Linked DNA regions of Homo sapiens. The protein of the gene in region 6 interacts with the protein of the main gene of each other region in a pairwise test. Each region holds a gene or a part of one and is shown on either strand. Other genes may lie near its edges.

Region 1 (2,819 bases), on a different chromosome or scaffold from region 6:
TGAAGATAACAGGATTAAGAGATTAGAGTAAAAACAGGCATAAGAAATTATAAAAGTATTATTTGGGAACTGATAAATGTCCATGAAATCTTCACAATTCATGTTTCTCTGCCGCGGCTCCAGCCAGTCCCACCATTTGGGGTCCCCGACTTCCTGCAACATTGCAAGTCATCTTGTTTTAAATTGCTAGATGATCTGTGCAGAGCATGTACTAGGAACAGTCTAGAGGAGGGATCTGGAGGGACTCATTTCCCTGGCAGCTGAGATGGAGATAGGGGTAAATGGGGGTATGAGATAGGTTTAGGGAAATTTAACAGAAAGCCACATCTGTATTGTACTTTACAGGTTCCAAACTGTTTGTATACACATTCTTACCAAATATTCACAATAACTCTGGGGTTAGATATTTTAACCCCATTATCAAGATAAGAGTCTGGAGGGCCAGGCGCGGTGGCTCATGCCTGTAATCCCAGCACTTTGGGAGGGTGAGGCAGGCAGATCATGAGGTCAGGAGATCGAGACCATCCTGGCTCACACGGTGAAACCCCGTCTCTACTAAAAAAATACAAAAAATTAGCCGGGCGTGGTGGCGGGTGCCTGTAGCTACTTGGGAGGCTGAGGCAGGAGAATGGCGTGAACCAGGGAGGCGGAGCTTGCAGTGAGCGAAGATGCGCCACTGCACTCCAGCCTGGGCGACAGAGCAAGACTCCGTCTCAAAAAAAAAAAAAAAAGTCTGGAGGCCAGAGGGGTAAAGTTCTTTGCTCAACATCCTGCAGACCCAAATCCAGGAATTCTGATTTCATATTCTGTGCTCTTTCCCATTGGAGACAAGAGCCATTAACAATATAAAGAAATTCTCAGAGTGCCTCTATTTCCTGGAGCATTAGAAAGTAGAAAATAAATAAAGGTGGGGAAAGAGTAAAAAAGAAGGAAGTAGGAAAGAAATGGAAGAGGGAGAAAGAAAAACAAAGAGGCCATGGGGGTGATAAGGCAAGCACAACATTTATAACACACTAAGTATCTAGCTCAGTGCTATGCATAAGATATGTCCAATATGTGTATCTGAATGGTTTTTAAAATGTATTAATTCATATCTAATAACTATATATTTTAGTTATACAGTAATTTCTCAAACATACAAATGCTTGTAGCTTTCTTCCTTGGACCCAGTATGTAGATTTGGCCATGGGTCTCTCTCAGTTTCCTTACAGATTCTAGCATATGGATTCAGTGCCTGGAACCTGCACATGTTGTGGAGTGGAACATCATTTTATTTTCCATTCTCATAACCCTCAGTGGGCTTCAAGTGATCATCTGCCTCATCAGAGTAGTCATGCAACTATCCAAGATACTGTGTGGAAGCTATTCAGTGATCTTCCAGGTAACAGATTCTCATGGGCACCTGTAGCTCATCCATATTTCCCCCACTTCCCAGGATTCAATGAGGCTTTTTGAAAAGACTCTAGAATTCCATCACTTTCCCCCCATTTCTATTGCCCTCATCTTTATTCAAGCTCTAATATCTCAATTTTTTCTGATATCCCAATGTGTCTTGGCTTATCTATAAGGGTTGAATCAACTCAGTAATTGTAAAATCTGCATTTCTTGTTGTATGGTAAGGCTTCATAAGTGTTTTGAATGAGCAAAGTTTTAGTGTTCTACATAGAGATAACTCAAAGCATGATGAAATTTTACCATTTATCAAGAATTTCCCTGTTCATAAGTTAAGCAAAGGCTCAGAACCTTATCTCATTGAAATAACTTCTCTTCTGAATGCTGCTACATTCAACTAATGAACCTTTATCTCGAGTGCATAGGAGTGCTTTTGAAGAAGAAGGGAAATATGTATTTATCCCATTGAAACTACTTCTACTTCGTCTGCTAAAATACTAATGTTAATTTAGTTATGGTTGAAACTGCTATCAAGAAGTCCAGAGTGAAGAAAAATTATGAATTTAGATGGCTTGTATTTTGTTTAACAACAGAATGTGTAATACCTTTCCTAGCAATTTCTAAGAGATGTTTTTTCTGTTCTATCATATTTTGAATATGAAATATAAGTTTAAGTTGCTATCTGGATTACGGATTACTAATCAAGCCAAGTTTATAACTTTAATCACTTTGTTTTTCCTTTTTTCCTATAGCCTGGAATCATTTGAATAAGGACAAAATGTTTTCCATTATCAAGACATGGCCATCTATCTAAATATTATATCAACTGTGTAGACTTGAGGGCAATATTGAAATGATGGTGCTTTCTGCATTTGGTGTTTATTTGTAAAAAATTTGCAGTCCTCACTGCACATGCAAGTATACCACCCTTCCATTTAGTATGTTTTTTAAGTAATATGCATCAGAAACTTCAGAAATACTTCTGCCCTTTGATCAAACAAATCCATTTCCAAGAATCTGTACTAGGGAAGTAAATAAGAATATGAGAGAAACCTTTATGCAAATATGTATATTGCAACATTATTTAATATTCTGGAAAATTGGAAACACCCCAAAATTCTAAACTCAGAGGAAGGATTAAGTAAAGAGTGGTACATACTGTAAATGTTTTCTGATATTAAAAAAAAAATTAAATAAAAAATAAAGAGTACTACATGGTTGTAAAATTACAGTCATTACAAATGATGTTTTTAAAATTATGAATAATGCTACATCAAAAAGCAGGTTACAAATTCATGTTTACTATATAACTATTTAAAGCAAATGAAACACTAATAGTCAAAGTTTAGGATGAAAACTAAATCTAAAAGGAAATATAACAAAATGCCAATTATGCTTGGTTTGGGGCATTGATGACCCTTCTTCCC
Region 2 (3,500 bases), on a different chromosome or scaffold from region 6:
CTTTTGGTTTTCCATAAGAAGCATTTAGTTCTTTAATTACACATTAAACTTCTAGCTTAGTGGCTAGAGAGAGCAAAAACTAGCGCAATTAAACATGAGCTAGTTCCAGGTTCACGTTCATCACCTTGATCAGTTGTAAACTGTAGGCTAGAGAAAACTAGCAAGAAAACAGAGGGAGACATCTGGGCCACCTATTTAACTCTCCTCCAAGAGAGCCTAAGAGAGAAGCCATGTGGAGGAGCGAGGCGGGTTTGATGTGTGGCAACCACTGCAGGTCTGGGCTGCTTTGCTGAGCAGAGACTGGCAGCCTGAGCTATGTACATCATCCAACGCCTGAGGGTGCCACTGAAGCAATATTTCAGCGGCTGGGCTGGGAATGCCCATTTCTCTGTAGTTCATTAAGGAGTAATTTTACTGTATCCACTTTCTGAGTTGACCGCTAGATCCTGGCTGGCTGTTGACTCTATTTGCCACTCTGGAGGAATGGCATGAAAAGGAAGGATTCTTCCTTTGAGACCCTAACTGAATGACTGGGCTCTCTAAGTCTTGTGAAGCAGTTGTCTCTTTGACAACCGAAAAAAAAGAGTTATGTTATTTTGAACAGACTTATGAGTGACTTCAATAATTTATGCTAGAAAAAAAGTCATTCTTCTATATTGCCTAGGACTCTCTTAAGAGTACAGTACAATATTTCATAGTACTTAGTACTCTTACATACTATTATTAATAGTACTATTACTAGTACTTAATAGTACCAATAGTACTTAACAGTACAGTACAGGGGTCAGCAAACTTTTTTTATACAGGGCCAGATAGTAAATATTTCAATCTTTGCTGGCCACACGGTCTCTGTTGTAATTACTCAGCTCTGTGAGTGCATGTGGAAGCAGCCATAGGCAATACACAGACAAATGGCTGTGGCTGTGTTCCAATAAAACTTTGTTTGTGGACATTGAAATTTGAATTTAGGATGATTTTCACATGTCTCAAAATATTCTTCTTTTCTTTTTTTTCCCCCAATTATTAAAAAATGTAAAAATTGCTCTTAGCTCACAAGTGGTACAATAACAGGCAGCAGGCCAGATTTTTTTTTTTTTAGCAGATTTGGTTTGCTGAAATTTTTTGTAGTAAAAATAGCCCACAGCTTAGGGCCCTGTGACCTGGATTTGAGACAAGGAGCTATGATTCACTGGCCTTTAAACTTGGCCAATTTGCCCAAACCCTAGTTTTCCCTCTATAAAATGTAAATTATAATACTCAACCTCTCATGGTGAATTAGAATGAAATAAGATAATTTGTACAAGTGCTCTTAATGCTCTCAAACACCACACCATGTTGGGTAAAATATTGTTGGGTTATTATTATATATTCTGTGATTTATCAAAATCTCTTAGCAGCCTTCTGACAGAATTTTGACTTCTAGATGACACTCTGCATCTAAAGCACTCAAGACATTAAAGGCAGAAATATTAGGAAGAGGCGTGCTTTACTCAATTTTAAATTAAAGGCTAACATTTTCTTAGATACCGGTTGGCCATAAAGTTCAGAAACAAGATAATGTTATTTTAGTGTATTGTAAAGTAATATCAATGAATCATCTATTATGTATATGTTACCTATGTTTTTCAATGTTAAAGCCATCCATTGAAAGGAAATCATCCTTGAAGATAATGTTTACAATATATAGAGGACACTGAACTTTCAACTACCTTCCTGACATTTTTAAATCATACAGAGTATCACCCAAGTCAAGGAAAGAAAGACTGAAGAGTAGCCAGACTATTAGCAAACTGTTTTGGAAATGATTTACTATGAGTATTTTAATTGTATTCTCTCAGCAAATCAAATGATTTCCCATTCTTCTGGTGAGTTCAGGTAGTTTTCTAATAGCATTCTTATGCCCCCTTTCTCTGTCCACCAGTTCCCACCTTTGTAAGCAGTTTCTAAATATCCCAAAGACACTGGCTTAAATCTAAATAAAAAAGCAAAGGGGAAAAAAGTAAGAAAACTGAAATGTAAGAAAATGTAGGGATGGAAAGCATAAGAATGTTGCTCTGGAGAATTCAAAATTTAGACTATTAAATGAAGTCATGAATAATTTTTAAATTGGAGTGCAGTGAAAAATAGACATTTCAGAGCCCTAGCTTGGTTAGACCTGCAAGAGAAAATTGTGCTTAAGAAATAGGTTGACATTTGCAGCTGGATTTCTGTTAGGGAACATAAGGTACTGAACTAAAACAATAGAATTGGAACTGGAGAACCAGGGAAACAGCAAAGGATGGGGATAGATGGAAGAACGGAGTGGGGGAAGAGAGAGTTCTGCCTCATGGACATAGAGGGGATATATGCTGGAACAACCAGGCTGGAAGGCCATGTTTGAAGGAACAGAAAAGTTGACATTTGCTATGTTAATGTAAAAGAGTATAGCTTACCCAGGGGACAGCTAAAACAGAAATGATTTTATTGGTTCCATAAAGTTGATTTATAAATGAATGGGTGCTCTTCCAGTTGGAGAGCACGTTGGGGTGGGTGGAGGTGAGAATCCGAGGAACTCAGCAGCCTTGTGGTGGGGGGTCATGCTTGCAGCTGAACCTGCCCTTCCATCCAGGAGCACTTTGTTCTGTCAAATTGGGGTCAACTGTGGCAAACCATAACCCTTAAATTCCAAATTCTTATCTGGCTCACGGATCCCACCATGCTTTATGGAAAAATGACTCAAATACATTAACCAAACAGACCAAAGGATCTAGTTGAGAGTGATCTTCATTAGTTATGGATACTGTTGTATTAAAAGAGACTTTTAAAAAATTCTCATTGCACTTGGTTTGCTAATGGAGTGACTGAGGGAATGAGGACTGGATATTGCGGAATAGAATGAGTGGAAATTGTGGGGTCAATTTTGTTGAGCTGTCTTAATGGAAAACACCATTCACTCACTACTCGCTGCTTAGAAAATCAGTCTCAATGAACTTTCAGTTCCAAATTTTAACAGTTGACACAAAATACACTGTTAAACTGTGTTAACAACTGTAGAAAAATAGACATGTTTGATAGGGACATTCTAGTAAAAGGTTCTTCAGGAGCATCCCCATGTAAAGATTCAGAGGCTCACATTACAAAAACGAGATTTGGTTCAAGTTCTGTCTCCAACTACATTGACAACAAAGACAGTGAGAAACAGGGAGAGACCTCACATCTGGGTGCCCGTCACAGACACAGAACTGACAGGTGCACGTGGCCAACGTGTTGTCAAGGCTCTTCGTTCAGTTGTGCTAAAGGGCAGGCAAGCAGGGATGAGGCCCTGAGCTGCTTGCTCTTCCAACCAGACACGGGGGTGTGCGCTGTCCTTTAAACCTTAGCAATGGAATTAAAAAGGCCCAGTGAGTCTTCAAGAGCTAAATTAGAAGACATTTTGCCGCCCCTATTCCATCTTGTTTTGTGCCTGCCATGGCCTGCCCTGCGACCCTGGCAAGGTTGCAGGGGAGCTCCCCAAGCCAAGA
Region 3 (3,956 bases), on a different chromosome or scaffold from region 6:
ACTTCCCCAGCTGTGAAGTTTGACTTGCTAAACAAAGAAGATACTACAGCTTTTCCCCAGTGTGGCTCCTGTGGAAGCTCCCCCAACACACACAACATCACAGGTGTGGGTGGGCAGAGATAGAAAAAATTTTTTTTTCTAAATGTTTTTCTCTTAAGGAGCTAGGGATGACCTCATGAAAGTTTAGGGAATCTGTTCTTCCCCTCACTCCTTCCTCATTCCCATCCAACTCAGACATGCTTCTCTTCCTCTACCACACTGAGAATTGGCAGGGCTTTGGGTACGGGTGTAGCATTTGCCTGAGGATTAATATACCCCCATTTGAAAATCGTGGCAGCCACGCCCTGTTTGGGGTCTTGCTCTCTGTTGTACCTGGGACCAATTCCCTTGAGGTCAGGAGGAATCCATTCCCTTGGGCAGCCAGCCCTCTCTTCCATCCCCTCATATCCTTCAGGGGTGCATTACCTCTCCTGGGGCAGAATCTCCCCACCAACCCATCCTGCTCACACCACAATGGGCGTATCAGAGAAGACCGAGCTGACTGATTCTGGATCCGACATCCTCCGTTGGCCCTTGCCTGTGGCCTCAGGCACTGGCAGGGTGTTGCCTGGCTTGAGCTTGCCGTTTTGACCCTGCCCAGGTCCAGCAGGTTCCAGGAAAGCCACCCGCCGGTCAAAACCATCATCTTTGTCCCCACCAGCCATAGGATCATGGTTGGGTGTGGTACTAAGCATGGAAGAGCTGAGGCTGTCTCCTTGATGGCTGGAAGGCTTCTCTACACCCCGGCACCAGCAGCGGCAAGGGGTGAGGTATAGGTATATGAGGACCAGGACCACACTAAGGATACAGCCCACTAGGGTGGTATAGGCTGTGTTGAGGGTGTCATGGTGTCCGTGCAAGGTGAAATTGTGCACTTTCAATTCCACAGACAGTGTCTCATTGAAAGTCTCTCCCATGGCATAGCAGGTATACACACCACCGTCCTCGACCTGCACCTGCTGGAAAAGAAGACTGCCATCCTTAGACACACTCACTGTGCCATTGGTCACCTCATCTAGCACCCGTTCATTACTTGGTGTCACCCACACCTTGGTCATCCCTTGCTGCTTGGTGTCACACTTGATGATCAAGGTGTCACCCAGGTGGGCCTCCCAGGCACGCTCCTTGTACTCGCCACAGTTGAGGAAACTCAGGTTGAAGACATTGTGCAGCTTCTTGGAGTTCATGCAGTACAGATCCTCTTGAAAGTCCATCACGGAGCTCAGCTGCCGATACTGCCAGTGTGAAAACAGCTGGTAGAGCTCACAGTCGCAGTTCAGGGGGTTGTTATGTAGGTACAGCCCATTCTTGATCCAGGCCGGCAGCTTCTGCAGGTCAGGCAATGGCAAGTTCTTCAGCTTGTTAGAAGAGAGATCCAGGAGCGTTAGTTTGGGTAGCTTGGCTCCTTCCTTGACCAGTTCCAGAGGGAAGCGAGAGATCTGGTTCTGGCTCAAGTAGAGTTTCTGCAGCTGGGCCATGTCATCGAAGGCGCACCGGTCCACCGCCATGATGTGGTTATTGTAGAGCAGCAGCACCTCCAGTACTTGCAGGTCACTGAACAGGAACTCATCCAGTGTACGCAGCTGGTTGGAGGAGAGGTCCAGGTAGCGCAGGTTGGGTACCGGGGAAAAGGCCTCAGAGGAGATGAAGTTCAGGTGGTTGTGGCTCAGCAGCAGGGAGTGCAGTTGGGTCAGGCGCGTGGGGGTCCACTCGGCCCGCAGGCGGCTCAGGTTGTTGTGACTGAGGTCCAGTAGTGCTGTGTAACTGGGCAAGGAATGGGGCACATTGGGCAGCTGCTGCTTGGAGCAGCTGAGGATGTTGCTGGCGCACAAGCAGGCGGCAGGACAGCTAACCACGGCTCGGCCAGCTCTGGCCACCTCAAAAAGCAGCAGGGACAAGGACGGCAGCAGGAGCCAGAGGCCTCTCGGGTCACGGTGGGGGTGCATAGTGTCACTGGAGTGGGCGAGGAAGGCCACAAGGAAGATCTGGGAGGAGGTCACCCGGGCATGTTCTGGTGGGGTACGGAAGGGTCACTTGAGAGAAAGAGGATGGGTTTGTGGTCACCAAGGACTCCAGAGGGAAGGACACCCTCTCCCACTTCCCCTCCCACCCTTACCTCCACCCCCTTTGGGCTAGGAGAGAGAGATGCTGGGTAGTTTCCAGGCACTGTGCAGGCAGTGGGCTGTAAATATCGGCCGAAGAGGAGGTGGCCCGAGGGCCTACTGGGCTGGGGTCACAGGGGTGCAGGCTGCAGGTATGCACAGGATGGCAGGGACTGCTGGGAGTCACAGGGATGGCACGGGCAGGGTTTGGAGGTGGGGTCGGTGTGCCTTTTGGGAGGAGCTGAGGGAAGGTCAACAGGGCACCGGGCTGGGTAGGACGCGTCCGGTCGGGGTTGAGGGTCCCCGGGGCCTGTAGGGGCGGGCTCCCCCCGGGGCCTCCGGTCACTGCACCTGCTCGGCGAGGACGTGTCTCAGCCCATGGCCGGTCTGGGAGCTCCGTCGCGGCCTCTCCCGGCGGCGCCTCACCGGCCGGCCTGTCACTGCGCCCACCTTACGCAGGGGCCCGCGCCCGGCACCGTCGCCTCCCGGGGACTTGCGGGGCCCCGCTCCGCTCACCCTGCCACCGCCTCGACCGCTGAGCCCGCCGGAGCCCACCGACCGCGGTCGCTGCCTCCAGGTCCGCAGGCCTGGCGCGGATCGGTGCGGGGAGCCGGAGGCGCAGCGATCCCAGCGGAGGGAGCGGCGTGGGGGCAGCGAGCACCGCGCGCGCGCCCGTCGCCGCCGCCGGAGCCTCGGGGCGCGTGCGCGCGGCGGGGGCGGGGCGCACGTGCGTGTGTTTGTGTCGGAGCCGGCCGGGCGGACGCGCGCGGGGTCGTTCCCTCAACCAGCGAGCTCCGGACGCTGAGCTAAAGACGAAAATTGGCAGGAAGAGCGGCACTGGCCCCTTAGGCTCCGCTATAACTTCCTCCATCCCCCATTCCCCCATCTCCCAGCACCCTTCTCGCTACACAGACCGGCTCTCAGGAAAAGTCTAACTAAAGTGAATTCGCTGCACCTACTCGGGCAAGAGGCGTCACATGTCTTTTAATTTCGCAAATTGAAGAAATCTGGCTCAGCTCCCGCCTGCCAATGTTGGCGGGAAATTCATTAGTCACATTCTGAGGTTCCCCCTCCCTTCTCTCTGTGGCTGTGGGGTCTCAAAAATTGGGGGAGGGGTTCCCCCCACCCCACCCCCGTCTTGATGCTACTAGTTCATGACCCTTGAGGTACCACTGAAGGGCACAGCTCCTTAGCCTGCAAGCCAGCTGCGCAGGAGTGAGGGGAAAGGGGGTGTTTGGTGAGCCCAGGCCCCAGAACACCCCTTTACAGACACCTCATGCACCTCTCCCCACTCCACCTGCTACACACACACACACACACACACACACACACACACACACACACACGGACTGCATACAAGCCAGGGACAATTTCCATTCCTGGAAACTCCGAAACCCTTCCCAGCCCGGAGGAAGTCATTCAGCCCTTAGGTCTGGCCACTTGCCTTCTTCCTAAACCAGTGCCAGCTCCCCACTCCCCTTATGGAGCAATTGCAACATAGTTTCTCTGTTACCTAATCCTCAAGATGAAGGCCAGTGGTGGAGGTGGAGGGGTTTCTTCTTTAGGGTGGCCCCTGAAACAACAAGAAGCTGTTACTAGTGTATGTTGTTTGGGTTTGGGGGTGAGGAAAGAGAGAGATGCAGGAAGAGCCTAGACCTTATCATTCAAGATGTTAGCTGTTCTTGAGATGGTGGACCATAAGAAATTACCTTTTTATTTGTTCCAGTCTCTTATAACAGCAAGATCAAGACTGAAATTAATGTCTCAGTAGATTAGCTTGCTAAGAGTTTTAAAAAGAATTTATATCTGTCACAT
Region 4 (2,440 bases), on a different chromosome or scaffold from region 6:
TAACATCAGTATAGCGTCCAACATCCACCTTCCCAAAATTTAGCCCTGTACAGTTGTATCTGAAAAGAATATATTATTTAATATGCTGAAAAAAAATAATGGATCAAGGAAAGTGGAAGTATAGATATTTAAGAGGGGAGAGGGAGATGCCTTTGGTTACCATGTGTGAAAATCAAGGCCAAAAGAAAAAGAAAAGCCAAAAACAGTGAGAGGGAAGGCACAGCATCTCCATTTCCACCATCCCTCCCTTTGCACTACTCACTTAAGGGAGAGGTCAGCATAGATAGGGGCAAATGATTGGCAGTCATTAGACCAATTGGCAAAGAACTCCACAATCCAAGTGACCCTCTTGTCCCGTTCTAGTTCCTCCTGCCAAATACAGGGAAGAAAAGTCAGCTGGATCCACATAGCCTCCTGGGAAGGTTCAGACTTTAGCATCTAATTCCTCATCCTGGTGTTCCCTCTCCCCCGGCTCTCATAATGAACCACAGTGCCCGTGACATCCATTTTGAAGCACTGTTGTTCCTCCTAGTGAATGGAGAGCACAACTACAAAATCACCCACAAGGGACCCAAGAAACAGAAAGGGGAAAGAGCACTCACATCAATGGTTTTATCATTGAAGTACTTGATATACTCAGGGCCCATATATAGGGGGGGTTTGCACGTCATCAGGAACACTAAATACAGAAAGAAGATGTCGAAGGAAACATAAAAAGCCTTACACAGGGAATTTACTTCCAAACCAACCCAAGGATTTCAGCCCCCAAATAATACACACTTGTGGATATATGTAGACCACCAACACATTCCCTACCTCTACAATAACAGTCTCTGTAAACTGTTATCATCTGAGCTACATATATAATTCATTAGGTATGAGATATGGAAGAAGGGTATGGAGAAACATGTTTGGGATTGCAACTGTTGGGACTGTGGTTTCCACAATCAAGTCTATCAACACAGTCTTACAAAAAAAAAAAAAGAAAGAAAGGCAGTCTCCTCACCTATGCAGAGTGTGATGTAAAGTAGGCCCATGCGAATATCCAAGCGGAAGAAAAGAATTGTGTTGGCCACTTTACTAAACATGAAAATGTTGCCTATATGTTGCTCCACAGTGACTGAAACACAGAGATGTCACAGGTCAGGCTGGGCTGTGCACTCCTATATCCCATTCTTTGTCCCTCTTCATGGGGCACTTTGAAATAGGAGACAGGGAGGGGATAGAAGTCCAAGTTCAAATTCAGCCTTGGAATTAAACGTAGGACAAATTTACCAAATGATTGCCACTCTCTTAACATGAAGCAAAGCACCTCCAAAGGGCATTAGATCTAACCTTGAGTCTGAGAAGTGAACTAAACTTACTGGATCTGCGGTTCTTCATCATCACAATGGCACTGAGAAACATCAGGATCTCCACTTCTCTCTGGAACAGAATCGAAGTATTATAACAGGAATGCAGTGACTAGAGCTAACTTAGGTGGGAAAGGGAACTAAATATGTAATAAAAACCAATAGCGATCCAAACTGGGAATGGGAACAATAAAGAACTGCAGTTAGGTAAGGTGTACGGGGATAAACATCAGTCAGAAGACCTGGATTCAGGTTCTACTCCTGCCACAAACTTGCTGGTGCTTTTCTTTTTGAGACAGAGTTTCACTCTTGTTGCCCAGGCTAGAGTGCAATGGCGCGATCTCGGCTCACTGCAACCTCCGCCTCCCAGGTAGCTGGGATTGCAGACATGCGCCACCACACCCGGCTAATTTTTTTATTTTTAGTAGAGACAGGGTTTCACCATGTTGGCCAGGCTGGTCTCAAACTCCTGACCTCAGGTGATCCACCAAAGTGCTGAGATTACAGGCACGAGCCACCGCGCCAGGCCTGCGGTGCTTTTCAACAAAGCACTTAATCCCTTAGCTTTGGTTTCCTCAACTGAACAGTATCTATTTCAAAATGCTACTGGGGGATTAAATGAGATAACAGATTAAAAAGAGTTGTATAAAGCATGATATGGTATAAAATCGTAAGATTATTAATATCAACTCAATGTGACGCTGGTAGAATAAAACTTTTCCAGGTAAGTTTTCTTGATAATAGCCCATTAATATAATATCTAGCTATTCCACATGTTTAATTTTTTTTTTTTTTTTGAGACAGTCTTGCTCCATCGCCCAGGCTAGAGTGCAATGGTGTGATCTCAGCTCACTGAAACCTCTGCCACCTGGGCTTGTGTTTCTCCTGACTCAACCTCCCAAGTAGCTGGGACTACAGGCGCACACTACTGTACCTGGCTAATTTTTGTATTTTTTGTAGAGACCGGGTCTCCCCATGTTGCCCGGGCTGGTATGGAACTCCTCAGCTCAGATGATCCGCCCGCCTCGGCCTCCTAAAGTGCTGGGATTACAGGTGTGAGCCACCGAGCCCGGCCCCCATTACTTAAT
Region 5 (3,500 bases), on a different chromosome or scaffold from region 6:
ACTCTATTGAACTTTTTTCTTGATTTGCTATAAGAATGCTGTTGGGTTTCCACTCAACATTTTTTTCTTTTGTATCCAGAGGAGTTTCTTCCTGTTTCTTCTTTATCAGAACCTGTCTTCCCAGAGATTCTTGCTTACTGACCAGTGACCTTACCTTTCTCTGCAGACGCCTTCTGGCAAGAGGGGAGAGCCTCTGGAACAGTGTACAGTGGGGAGGAGAAGCTCACTGAGCTCCTTGTGAAGGTGAGTGTCCAGTTCTTGAGGGAAGCCTGTGAGGTCTGTGCCAGTTTACATGACCTCCTTTTTTTCCCTTACTTTTGTAATTAGAAAAATTACTTAAGGAAAGCTTATTGGTACAATAAAACCATAAAAGTTTCTCTTCACCCAAACATAGGCGAATATGTATAATATTATCAAAGACATCTTCAGTCTGTAAAATAGTAAAATGTTATTTATGTTTTCAGTCTTTGCAGATGTCCTGTCTAGAAGGCAGATTACTAGGGAAGGTAGTCCTGTCAGATGAGATTTTTGTGGTGAGACAGATTTTGTTTGATAAGAAGAGATAAGATAGGGAAACTCTTTCATAATTTTCTCAAATCATGTGACCCAAGATGAGCAGTGGTCTCATGTATACTTCAAATAATTCTCATTCTTAGCTTCTTCCATTTCTAATCAAATTTATTTTTATTTTATTTTATTATTTTTACAGACAAAGTCTCACTCTGTCACACAGGCTGGAGTGGAGTGGTGTAATCATGGCTCACTTCAGCCTTGACCTCTTTGGCTCAAGTGATCCTCCCACCTCAGCCTCCTGAGTAGTTGGGACTACAGGCGTGCATCATGACACCCAGCTAATTTTTGTATTTTTTTGTTGGAGATGGGGTCTCACTCTGTTGCCCAGGTTGGTCTTCAACTCCCAGCCTCAAGTGATCCTCCTGCCTTGGCCTCTGAAAGTGTTGAGATTACAGCTGTGAACCACTGCACTCGGCCCTCATATTTATTTTTGAAACTCCACTTCATCATATAAAATTGGGGTTGTACTGATGATCTCTAAGGTCTTTGTGTTTGATTATTATAAATATGAAACTGTCCCTTACTAAATAAATATGGCAGGTTTTGCATAAGTTGGTGTAATGCTCTGATCTTCTGTGCTTAAAATCTTTCAGTAGCTTCCCATTATCTACAGGATGAAACTCAGGTTCTTATGCAGCAGAGAATACAAGTTTCTTCATGAGCCAGCTCCCACTTATTTTTTCTTAACTACTTCTCTTCATTTCCCACATAAACACTAATCCTGCCTTTTCTCTTTACTAAATGTGTCATGCTTTTACGTTGTTTTCCTTCCCTTCCATCATTCCTCTTGTTCCAAATGATGATTCCTACTCATCTCTCAAAGTTCCACTCAGCAGACACCTCTAGATCACTCAGGATGTTAGTTGTTCCCTCTTCAGGGTCCCTTAGCACTCTGTACACACACCTGATATTGCAGTCGATAACAACAGCTGCTTTGTGCCAGACACTCTACTAAGTGCTTCACATGCATTATGTTATTTAATTATTGCTAGAACACTAGAAGATAGCTACCATAACAACTTCTGCGTATGAAGAAACAACCTTAGATTATGTGACCTACACAGCTGAAAGTAATAGGCAAAGCTTAGACTTCCTCCTGGGTCGGTTTGGTGTTATAGTCTGCGCTTTTAACCATATTTATACTTCTTTCCTCATCACATTGTAAAATTATTTATTTACATGTCTGTCTCCTCTGCTATGTTTTGATCTTTTGGTTGAGGAATATATCTTATCTTTTTTTCCAGTTTATATTGTTGTGCCTAATACTTAGAAACTGTTGTTTAGTGCATGATTCTTTGTCCTGTATAGTGTAATAGTTTTGATTTCACATCTGCTTGCATTTTTTTGCAGGCTTATGGAGATTTTGCATGGAGTAACCCCCTGCATCCAGATATCTTCCCAGGACTACGCAAGATAGAGGCAGAAATCGTGAGGATAGCTTGTTCCCTGTTCAATGGGGGACCAGATTCGTGTGGATGTGTAAGTATATGCAAGGGGCATCCAATAGCCTTATTTTTTAGGTTAAAATAGAAGAGTTTTTAATAAATATTAATTATATTTTAAAAAATAAAAAATATTAAAAATATTTTACTACACAAGAAATATTTGATCATTGTAGAAAGGTCATTTTACTACACAAGGAATATTTGATCATTGTAGAAAGATCCTAATTAACTGCAGTTTTAAATGTTACTTGTAATTTTGTAACCTAGACAATGTCAACATTTTGGTATATATTCTTCTAGATATTTTTATTTTCACCTTTTTATTTTGAAAAACTTTGAACCTACATTGAGTTGCTAGGATGGCTTAAAGAACACCTTAGATTCACTAAATGTAAATATGTTGCCATATCTGCTCTCTACACTCTTTCCCTCCCTACCCGCTTCTTCCCTCATCCCCCACCTGCATACCTACCATTCCCCTATTTATCTGTGTATACTTTTGTTGTTCCATCCAGCAGTGTTTTTAGTGTACTTCTGGTTTTACCTGAGCCAAAGTTTAATTTATTATTTTGCTGTAAACTGAACCTCATTTAGTTGCTATTAGGCATAAAGAAAGGGGGAGGACATCATTATATTTAAAGAAACACATGAGGATTCTTTGTTTTACCTGTTCTTTCAAGTAGATGGTTGTTAGTTTTCGTAAACTATGATAGATAAACTTCTGTTTAGATCTGTTGTCTTTAGAAAAAACGAAATCTCAGGTTATGTAGGATAGATAGATTTAACTCAATATGCTGCAATGGTGTCCTAGAGGTGCTAATCCTATCAGATACTCATCATATTTGCAGTCATTATAAAGACTGCAGATTTAATTATTGAAGGGCCCATTCGAAGAGCACCTAATTTAGTTTCTTTTTTTTTTTCCAGGAAGCATTGTTTTTGTTTTGTTTTTCTAATATGTTGGCGCCATGAAAATCATCATGTTCAAATATTAGTAGTAATAAAGGTGATATGCCTGGCATTCATTTTCAAAGCAAAATACTGAAACTGTTAAAAACAGAACCACCCATAATACAGCAGCAGTTTCCCTTAGAGTACTGAGGTGAACAGGGTGACTTTCAGAGGGAAGATGATAATGTACTTACAGTATATTCTCCTATGCCATTAGACTCTTGAAGAACTTGTAAGAGGCCAGAGTGAATAGCCACAGAACAGTTTGGCCTTATCTGGTAAATTTGAAGATACATATATCTTATGACCCAGAAATTCTGCTACTAGGACATACTCTAGAAAAATTAGTACACATATATATCAGGATATATGGACATTAATATTCATAGCAATGTTATTCATGATAGCTAAAAACTGGAAGTAATTCAAATGCCTATCCACAGGACACAGATGAATAAATTGTGGAATGCTGTGTGTGCCTCAATCCATTGTAGCTCTTATTCAGATTGATGTACAAATTGCCTCATCCAT
Region 6 (4,127 bases):
AGGGAGAAACCCCATCTCTACTAAAAATACAAAAAGTAGCTGGGCGTGGTGGCAGGCGCCTGAAATCCCAGCTACTCAGGAGGCTGAGGCAGGAGAATTGCTTGAACCCAGGAGGCGGAGGTTGCAGTGAGCTGAGATCCTGAGATCAAGCTCCACTGCACTCCAGCCTGGGTGACAGAGGGAGACTCCATCTCAAAAAAATATATATATGTTTTTAAGTGTACAGTTTAGTAGTGTTAAGTATATTCACATTGTTGTGCAACCTATGTCTAGAACTTTTTCATCTTGCAAAGCTGTAACTCTATACCCATTAAACAACTGCCTATTCCACCCCACCCCCATCAGCCCCTGGTAACTATCCTTCTACTTTGCGTCTGTGAATTTGAGTACTCTAAATACCCCATATAAATGTAATCATACAGTATTTGTCTTTTTGTGACTGGCTTATTCACTTAGCATAATGTCCTCAAGATTCATCCATGTTGTGGTATGTGTCACAATTTCCTTCCTTTTTACAGGTAATATTCCATTTATGTATATACCACATTTTGTTTATCCATTCATCCACTGAGGAACACTTGGGTTGCTTTTACCTCTTGGCTATTGTGAATAATGCTGTTATGAAAATGGGTGTACAGCTTTGAAAAATTTTTAAATTATTTCCATATGTTTGGCTTGCACAACATCAACATAACCAATATTTATTGAGTGCTTACTTTATATCAGATTCTGTGCTAAATGTTTCTCACATATAACTTTCACACATTTCTCGTAATGTCCCATTTTATAGTAAAACAAACTGAAGCACAGAGTGATTATTTGCCCATGGTCACACACAAAGCCGATAACGTATTAGAACTGGAATGGGGCTGAGGCCCATCTGTGCTCACAACACATCTTGATCTCTGAGAGCAGAATTTATTCTGCTCATATTTAGTTGTCTCTCTTCATACCCGCTAGTTCAGCAACCAGTGAATACTCAGTGCATACTCCCTGACTAACCAGAGAAGGAAAAATATGAGCAAGAGCCTCTCCTTCTAGCAAAATCATGAATCCTGCTCACACAGGCATGCCAAACTCTCTGACAGCCCCCTTAGCTGAGTGCTGGTACAGCAGCCAACACACGCAGAAGGAAAGCAGGAATCCAGCCTGGAACCTGCAGTCCACAACCATCCAGAAGGGCTTCAGGATCTTGCCCCTCTCCCTTCACTCACCCAGTGGTTAGTGAAGTTCCCAGTGAGAATGGCAGGAGCAAAGGAGCGGGCAGGATTCATGCCTGCACCAGTATAATACATCTGCAAAAGAGACAGTTGTAACTGAGACACCCCCCTACTGCACCCCAGCTTCTCTCCCCACAACCCACATTGCCCCTGAGAGCTGCCATCTTTTCTCCAGCCAGCAGCAAGTGGAGAGGGACAGCCTGCATGACTCTCCAGGGGTTCCTGCAATGGGGTGAGGGCAACTGATGCCCTGTCTGGGAACAGACTATGGATCCATAGGCAAAGCCCATGTCTAGCCATGATACGTTCATTTCTACCTTGGGGTCAAGAAGGACTAGATATAGCAGTCACAAGAGAGGGATAGGGCAGAGTTGATTCCTTTGTGCCAGTAGAGAGTGCAATGGACAATGTTCATGTTTGACAGTGAAGTAGGCAGGAAGAACCCTTAAAAGTTGGGAAAGGTTTAGGGGCCCCGGAATCCTTGAATGAGAAGTTGCTCTCCTTCCTGCTTACCCCAAAGAGGTGCCCCAGGGCAAGGGAGAAGCCAACGGCCAGGGCCACGGAGCCCAGTTGGCCATTCCGCCTCTCGTCGTATGTGGCAAAGATGCAGAGCACGAACTGGAGCGTCAGGAAGATCTCCACTGTGGTTGCCTGGCCCACGCTCACCGCAGGGTGCAACTGTGCAAAGGAAGAAGAAGAGAGACAGCTCAGGAGGGCTGCCACAGTGTTACCTCCTCAAGACTTCCCCGGCAAGGATCTCGTTACGGCATCAGGTCCGTGGAGAGGAAGGATAATACAACCCCCTTCATAATCATTGTATTTGCATCTTACCATCTCCTAACAGTGCTCCTTCATGATGGAAATGATTGCAGCCACTTACATGTATGAGGAAACTGAGGCCTTGAAAGGTAAAATAAGTTTCCTTAAGAACCTGCAAGGAGTTGGAAGGAAAGCTGAAACTCAAACTCAGGTTTCTTAATTCTCAGTCCAGGGCCCTATGCCTTCCTTAAAGCTCTAAACCACCTGTCAATCCTCACCACTTCAACACACACATGCTCACACATGCACATATTGTCCCAGACCCCAGGGGAGCTGATTCACCTGCACCAGTCAGGGAGTCAGGGCAATAGAGAGACAGGACACCAGGTTCCCCATCCCCTCTCAGCCAACCATTACCGTGTTGAGTGCTAGGTTTCCTCGGACAGCAGGTGGGGTAACGCTATACAGCACAGCGGCCCCAGCCACAGCTCCCAGGAGCTGGGCTGCCATATAGCAGAAGGCACGGAGCAGGGACATCTGGGAGCCCACAAGGAAAGCAAAAGTGACTGCAGGATTGACGTGGGCTCCACTGATGTGGCCCACAGACTGCACCAGTGTAGCCAGGGCCAAGCCAAATGCCATAGCCACCTGCAGAACATGCAGGGGTCCAGGAGCCCAGCGCAGTGAGGACCCCAGCCCAAAGAAGACATAGAAGAGGGTGGCAAAGAACTCAGCGAATATGGCCCTCCAAAAGGAGGCTGATCGCAGTTCCCACATGGCAGGGGGGATGGTCACAGTGCCTGGGTCCCTGCTACCCCCATGGCCTTGTCTGGGTGGACAGTCCCCTTTATAGAGGACTCTTAATCCCTGGGAGGGGCAGGCTGAGGTAGCAGGCCCAGCCTCTTAACCCCTTCACAGCTGTGGAGGGCTAAGTCCCCTCCCCTACATGGTAAAAATGCTGGATTTTCCCGCCTTTCTCAACTGGGAGATGAGCCGAGAGAGCCATGGCAGTGAGGGTGGGATTGGGGTCACAGCAAGAGAGACTACGAGAAGTGGGGGTGAAGAACAGCAGGACTGGAAGAGTCTGCCCTTCTGTGTGTGTCAAAATTGGGGTTCATTGTCCTGATTGACATCAACATTAGAATACTCTTCAGCTCTCTTTGGAAGGTCCATCAAGCTGAGCTCACTTCATGGCATTTGGGGCTGAGCTCCTGGGGGCCTCAGCCTCCTCTGAGTCTGCCAGGGGTAAGGGTTGGGGGGAGTGGTAAGGAGTGGGGTTCAGCAGGGAAGTTGGATAACTAAAGAGAATTCTTTAGTTCCCAGGGATTAGAAGCCTTTCTCCCATTGGCTAGTTTGGGCTGGAATCTGTGGACCCTGCAGCTCTGGGACAAAATAGTTCTGCTGCGTCTGGCTTTCTCTGAGCCCGGGTTCCCTACCCCCAGTCCATGACAGCACCTCCCTTTTCAAACCCTAGGCCTGGCTTTTTAAACTACAGGGACCGACAGAGAGAAGACACTATCATCCCTGCATGGGCTGGGAGTGGGGTTGGAGGGATAGGAATAAGAAAGGGACTCGTAGTTAAACCTTAGAATCAGCTTGTATTTCATCTTTCCTAACTCACATGGTCATAGCAAGAAGTACTGAAAGGAAGGAAACAGTCATGGCTATGAAGCAATGGGAAGGTCTAATGTCCTTTAATACAGCCATGATCAGCACACCCTAAGCCTTGATCCCCAGGGAAAGGTATGGGTGTGCTGGGATCAGATCTGGGGAAACAGCCGATCAAAGAGAGGGAAAAGGATAATATGGGGAAGGAAAGTTTGGGGAAAGAGGTTCAGTTGTGCTCGGGCTTGGTGAGGGACTTGGGACCTAGGCGTGGGGTTGTGTGGTGATGGAGAAGGTAGAATGGGACATACTGATAGGTTCTACCATCTCCACATAGTGGCAAGTCATACCGGCCACAAACTTTTCTCATGAAGCACCAGAGAGCAGAAATTCGAGGTGAGGCCTGCAAGAATGGTGCCCAGCATGGGTCCTACCCAGTACACCTGTGGGGAGAGAGAAGGAACACAGATCAGGGGCTGTGCTTTCTCCTCATAATACCCAGCTTGGGGATGGACAGAAAGAGAGTTATAGTGAAGGTAGAGG
Region 7 (2,575 bases), about 74 Mb from region 6:
TCTGTAGTGTGTCATTCAGGGTCACGCATCACACCCACTGTGCTTACGGCGCTGTCACTGAACAAGACGTTCGGTTGTGCTTCTTCCGTGAACTCATACATTACAAGGTCAGCACTCGATGCCGGGTTACAGCGTCTGAGATTCATTCACGAAATGACAGGATGCTGATTTGGTTGCAGATGTGGTCTGAGTCTCAAGGATAAATGGCTCTTGGGATATGGTTGCTAGGACAATGTTGTTGCTAGGATAATTCCAAGGATCACAAGCAAAACAATTACACAAATAATAATGAACATCAATTTCTGCAAGATAAAGAAAAACATTAATTTGCAATGTATCAAAGAAATCAACAATGGCATTTGCTAACTAATCCTTCTGGGATTTGGGATAGTTTAAAAAATACATCCATTATCAAGAAAGGACTCCTCCATGTCATAGAAAAGAATGTGATCTTGGCTCACAGCAACCTCTGCCTTCCGGGTTCAAGTGATTCTCCTGCCTCAGCCTCCCGAGTAGCTGGGACTACAGGAACCCGCCACCACGCCCAGCTAATTTTTGTATTTTTAGTAGACACGGGGTTTCAGCATGTTGGCCAGGATAGTCTCGATCTCTTGACTTCGTGATCCACCCGCCTCAGCCTCCCAAAATGCTGGGATTACAGGCGTGAGGCACCAGGCCCGGCCGACACTTTCTTTTAATCATAATAAAACTCCAGGATTGCTTTTAATTGGATGAATTACACATATTTGTAAAACTTTAAACGAATTTCTTGTTGGCTGAAAAATCCTATTTTTTCTTTCTTTTCTGAAAGGAGGTGTCACTCTGTCGCCCAGGCTGGAGAGCAGTGGTGCAGACATGGCTCACTGCAAACACATCCTCCTGGACTCAAGCAATCCTCCCACCTCAGTGTCCCAAGGAGCTAGGATGACAGGCATGCACCACCATGCCCAGCTAATTAAAAAATATGTTTTTAAGAGATGGGGTCTTGCTATGTTGCCCAGACTAGTCTCGAATTCTTGGGCTCAAGCGATCTTCCTGCCTTGGCCTTCCGAAGTGTTGGGATTACAGGCATGAGCCACTGCACCTGGCCTTATCCATTTTTTACATTTAAATATGACAAATGTGTAAGAAATCAACAAGACATTCATTCATTCTTCTACTGCACTGATGGTCTGGAAGCAGGGTGCGACACAGCATTTAACTTTTTTAAAATTAACAAGTATCCTCACACAAGGCAAAGCGAGACCACCTTTGGCTTAATAAATGGAGTCTCCTCCAGGAAGCTTGTCTGAGGGAAGGAAAGGAAGACACAACAGGAGGCACCGCGCTGTAGGACTTTGAGTTCTCTTTTTGAACAGCAGAGATCCATCATTTTAATTACAGTTCCAAATGTACGAGTGCTTTTACCTAAGAAATCCTGTTTGCTGAGCCTGGACAGTTCCAAGACTGCCGGCTCAGTCAGTTATACAGGGTTATCAAGAGGCGCATGGCAGGCCCCGGTGAGCCTCCCAGTGACTCCTCAGGACCGGGGAGAGCTGCCTGCAGGAGGGCCCCTCCCTCAAACTCTGGTTCCCTGTTAACATCACGCACATTTCCTGCAAAGCCCCAGCCACTCTCTCATCCTCTATATGCGCTCCTACGCCCCACTCTCAGCACCTTCCTAGAGAAACCTCTTCTTCCTTTTCTCTGTGATGCCTTCCCTCCCTCCAGAGGGAGGCGCGCGCCCTCCCGCTCAGCAAGTGAGTGTGCTGGCAGCTGGGCCACCTGGAGTCAGCTCCACGCAGCGTGCTCTCATCTCCTGCTGCTGTTGTGCTGCCTGCCACGTGTCTGGGTGCTCGATGTGTGTGCACTTTCCTGCCACATCTGGCTTTCAGGATGACTGTCAACTACATGGAGTCTAGGGTACAGGACTCAGGAGTCATCTAATCTCCTGGTGACAGCGAGAGTGGAAAGGGTACACCCTGGGGAGTCCAGCTCCAGGTCTGGGCCAGGGCCCTCTCACCGAATACCTGTAAGACTCCACCTGTCTCCTTAAAGCAGCCCATCCCACCCATGCTCCGGGGTGACAGGCCTGCACCTGGCACACCCTGCAGGGAGGGGCAGCAGCCAGCCCCAGGAAGGCCAATTGCTAAAGGATGAAAGGCTATGTTAATATTTTAAAAGTGAAGTTAAGGACATTAACCACTGCCTTCCTATGCAAAGATAACTGCTGGTATTCATTTTGGTCTGCTTTTTATGAATGAGGATCCTTCTATGTTCATTCTTATTTACAGACACTAGGGTGAAATGGCCAGCCAGGCCCGGGGCACAGGACTTCAAGCCCCACTCCCCAGGGGTCACACTGAGAGGAGCCTTCTTTTAGTCAACCTTAATGCCAAGTAGTGCCCATGAAAAGTCGCGCATTTCACTGTGTCCGCGCTACAAATTGTAATTTTATCTTTAGTGTAACCACATTAAACTAACCATATTATAGCTACTAGGAAAAAACTCAGAAAGTACATGTTAGAATCATGAAAATATTGAAAAATACTACTATAACAATGAAGAAAAATCACGTACAATATTTTCAGCAAAG

What was found.
Region 1: the proteins of MIP (region 6) and TM4SF18 interact in binary tests that used the Homo sapiens proteins (3 or more experiments, as listed by UniProt).
Region 2: the proteins of MIP (region 6) and KCNJ6 interact in binary tests that used the Homo sapiens proteins (3 or more experiments, as listed by UniProt).
Region 3: the proteins of MIP (region 6) and AMIGO1 interact in binary tests that used the Homo sapiens proteins (3 or more experiments, as listed by UniProt).
Region 4: the proteins of MIP (region 6) and TMX2 interact in binary tests that used the Homo sapiens proteins (3 or more experiments, as listed by UniProt).
Region 5: the proteins of MIP (region 6) and SGPL1 interact in binary tests that used the Homo sapiens proteins (3 or more experiments, as listed by UniProt).
Region 7: the proteins of MIP (region 6) and STX2 interact in binary tests that used the Homo sapiens proteins (3 or more experiments, as listed by UniProt).

The regions. Positions count from the first base shown.
Region 1 is NC_000003.12:149,320,818-149,323,636, reverse strand, and holds part of TM4SF18 (transmembrane 4 L6 family member 18), read left to right. Parts: intron 1-1,200; coding exon 1,201-1,381; intron 1,382-2,144; coding exon 2,145-2,159; 3' UTR 2,160-2,819.
Region 2 is NC_000021.9:37,619,458-37,622,957, forward strand, and holds part of KCNJ6 (G protein-activated inward rectifier potassium channel 2), read right to left. Parts: 3' UTR 1-3,500. UniProt on the Homo sapiens protein: Inward rectifier potassium channels are characterized by a greater tendency to allow potassium to flow into the cell rather than out of it.
Region 3 is NC_000001.11:109,506,928-109,510,883, forward strand, and holds the start of AMIGO1 (amphoterin-induced protein 1 precursor), read right to left. Parts: upstream 2,801-3,956; 5' UTR 2,493-2,800; intron 2,073-2,492; 5' UTR 1,986-2,072; coding exon 504-1,985; 3' UTR 1-503. UniProt on the Homo sapiens protein: Promotes growth and fasciculation of neurites from cultured hippocampal neurons. May be involved in fasciculation as well as myelination of developing neural axons. May have a role in regeneration as well as neural plasticity in the adult nervous system.
Region 4 is NC_000011.10:57,736,593-57,739,032, reverse strand, and holds part of TMX2 (thioredoxin-related transmembrane protein 2 isoform 1 precursor), read right to left. Parts: intron 1,426-2,440; coding exon 1,365-1,425; intron 1,248-1,364; exon of another isoform or gene 1,121-1,247; coding exon 1,007-1,120; intron 680-1,006; coding exon 603-679; intron 370-602; coding exon 263-369; intron 60-262; coding exon 1-59.
Region 5 is NC_000010.11:70,857,448-70,860,947, forward strand, and holds part of SGPL1 (sphingosine-1-phosphate lyase 1), read left to right. Parts: intron 1-166; coding exon 167-243; intron 244-1,923; coding exon 1,924-2,052; intron 2,053-3,500. UniProt on the Homo sapiens protein: Cleaves phosphorylated sphingoid bases (PSBs), such as sphingosine-1-phosphate, into fatty aldehydes and phosphoethanolamine. Elevates stress-induced ceramide production and apoptosis.
Region 6 is NC_000012.12:56,451,858-56,455,984, forward strand, and holds the start of MIP (lens fiber major intrinsic protein), read right to left. Parts: upstream 2,801-4,127; 5' UTR 2,757-2,800; coding exon 2,397-2,756; intron 2,191-2,396; exon of another isoform or gene 2,055-2,190; coding exon of another isoform or gene 2,052-2,054; intron 1,899-2,051; coding exon 1,734-1,898; intron 1,296-1,733; coding exon 1,215-1,295; intron 1-1,214. UniProt on the Homo sapiens protein: Aquaporins form homotetrameric transmembrane channels, with each monomer independently mediating water transport across the plasma membrane along its osmotic gradient.
Region 7 is NC_000012.12:130,791,676-130,794,250, forward strand, and holds part of STX2 (syntaxin-2), read right to left. Parts: intron 303-2,575; coding exon of another isoform or gene 194-302; 3' UTR 1-193.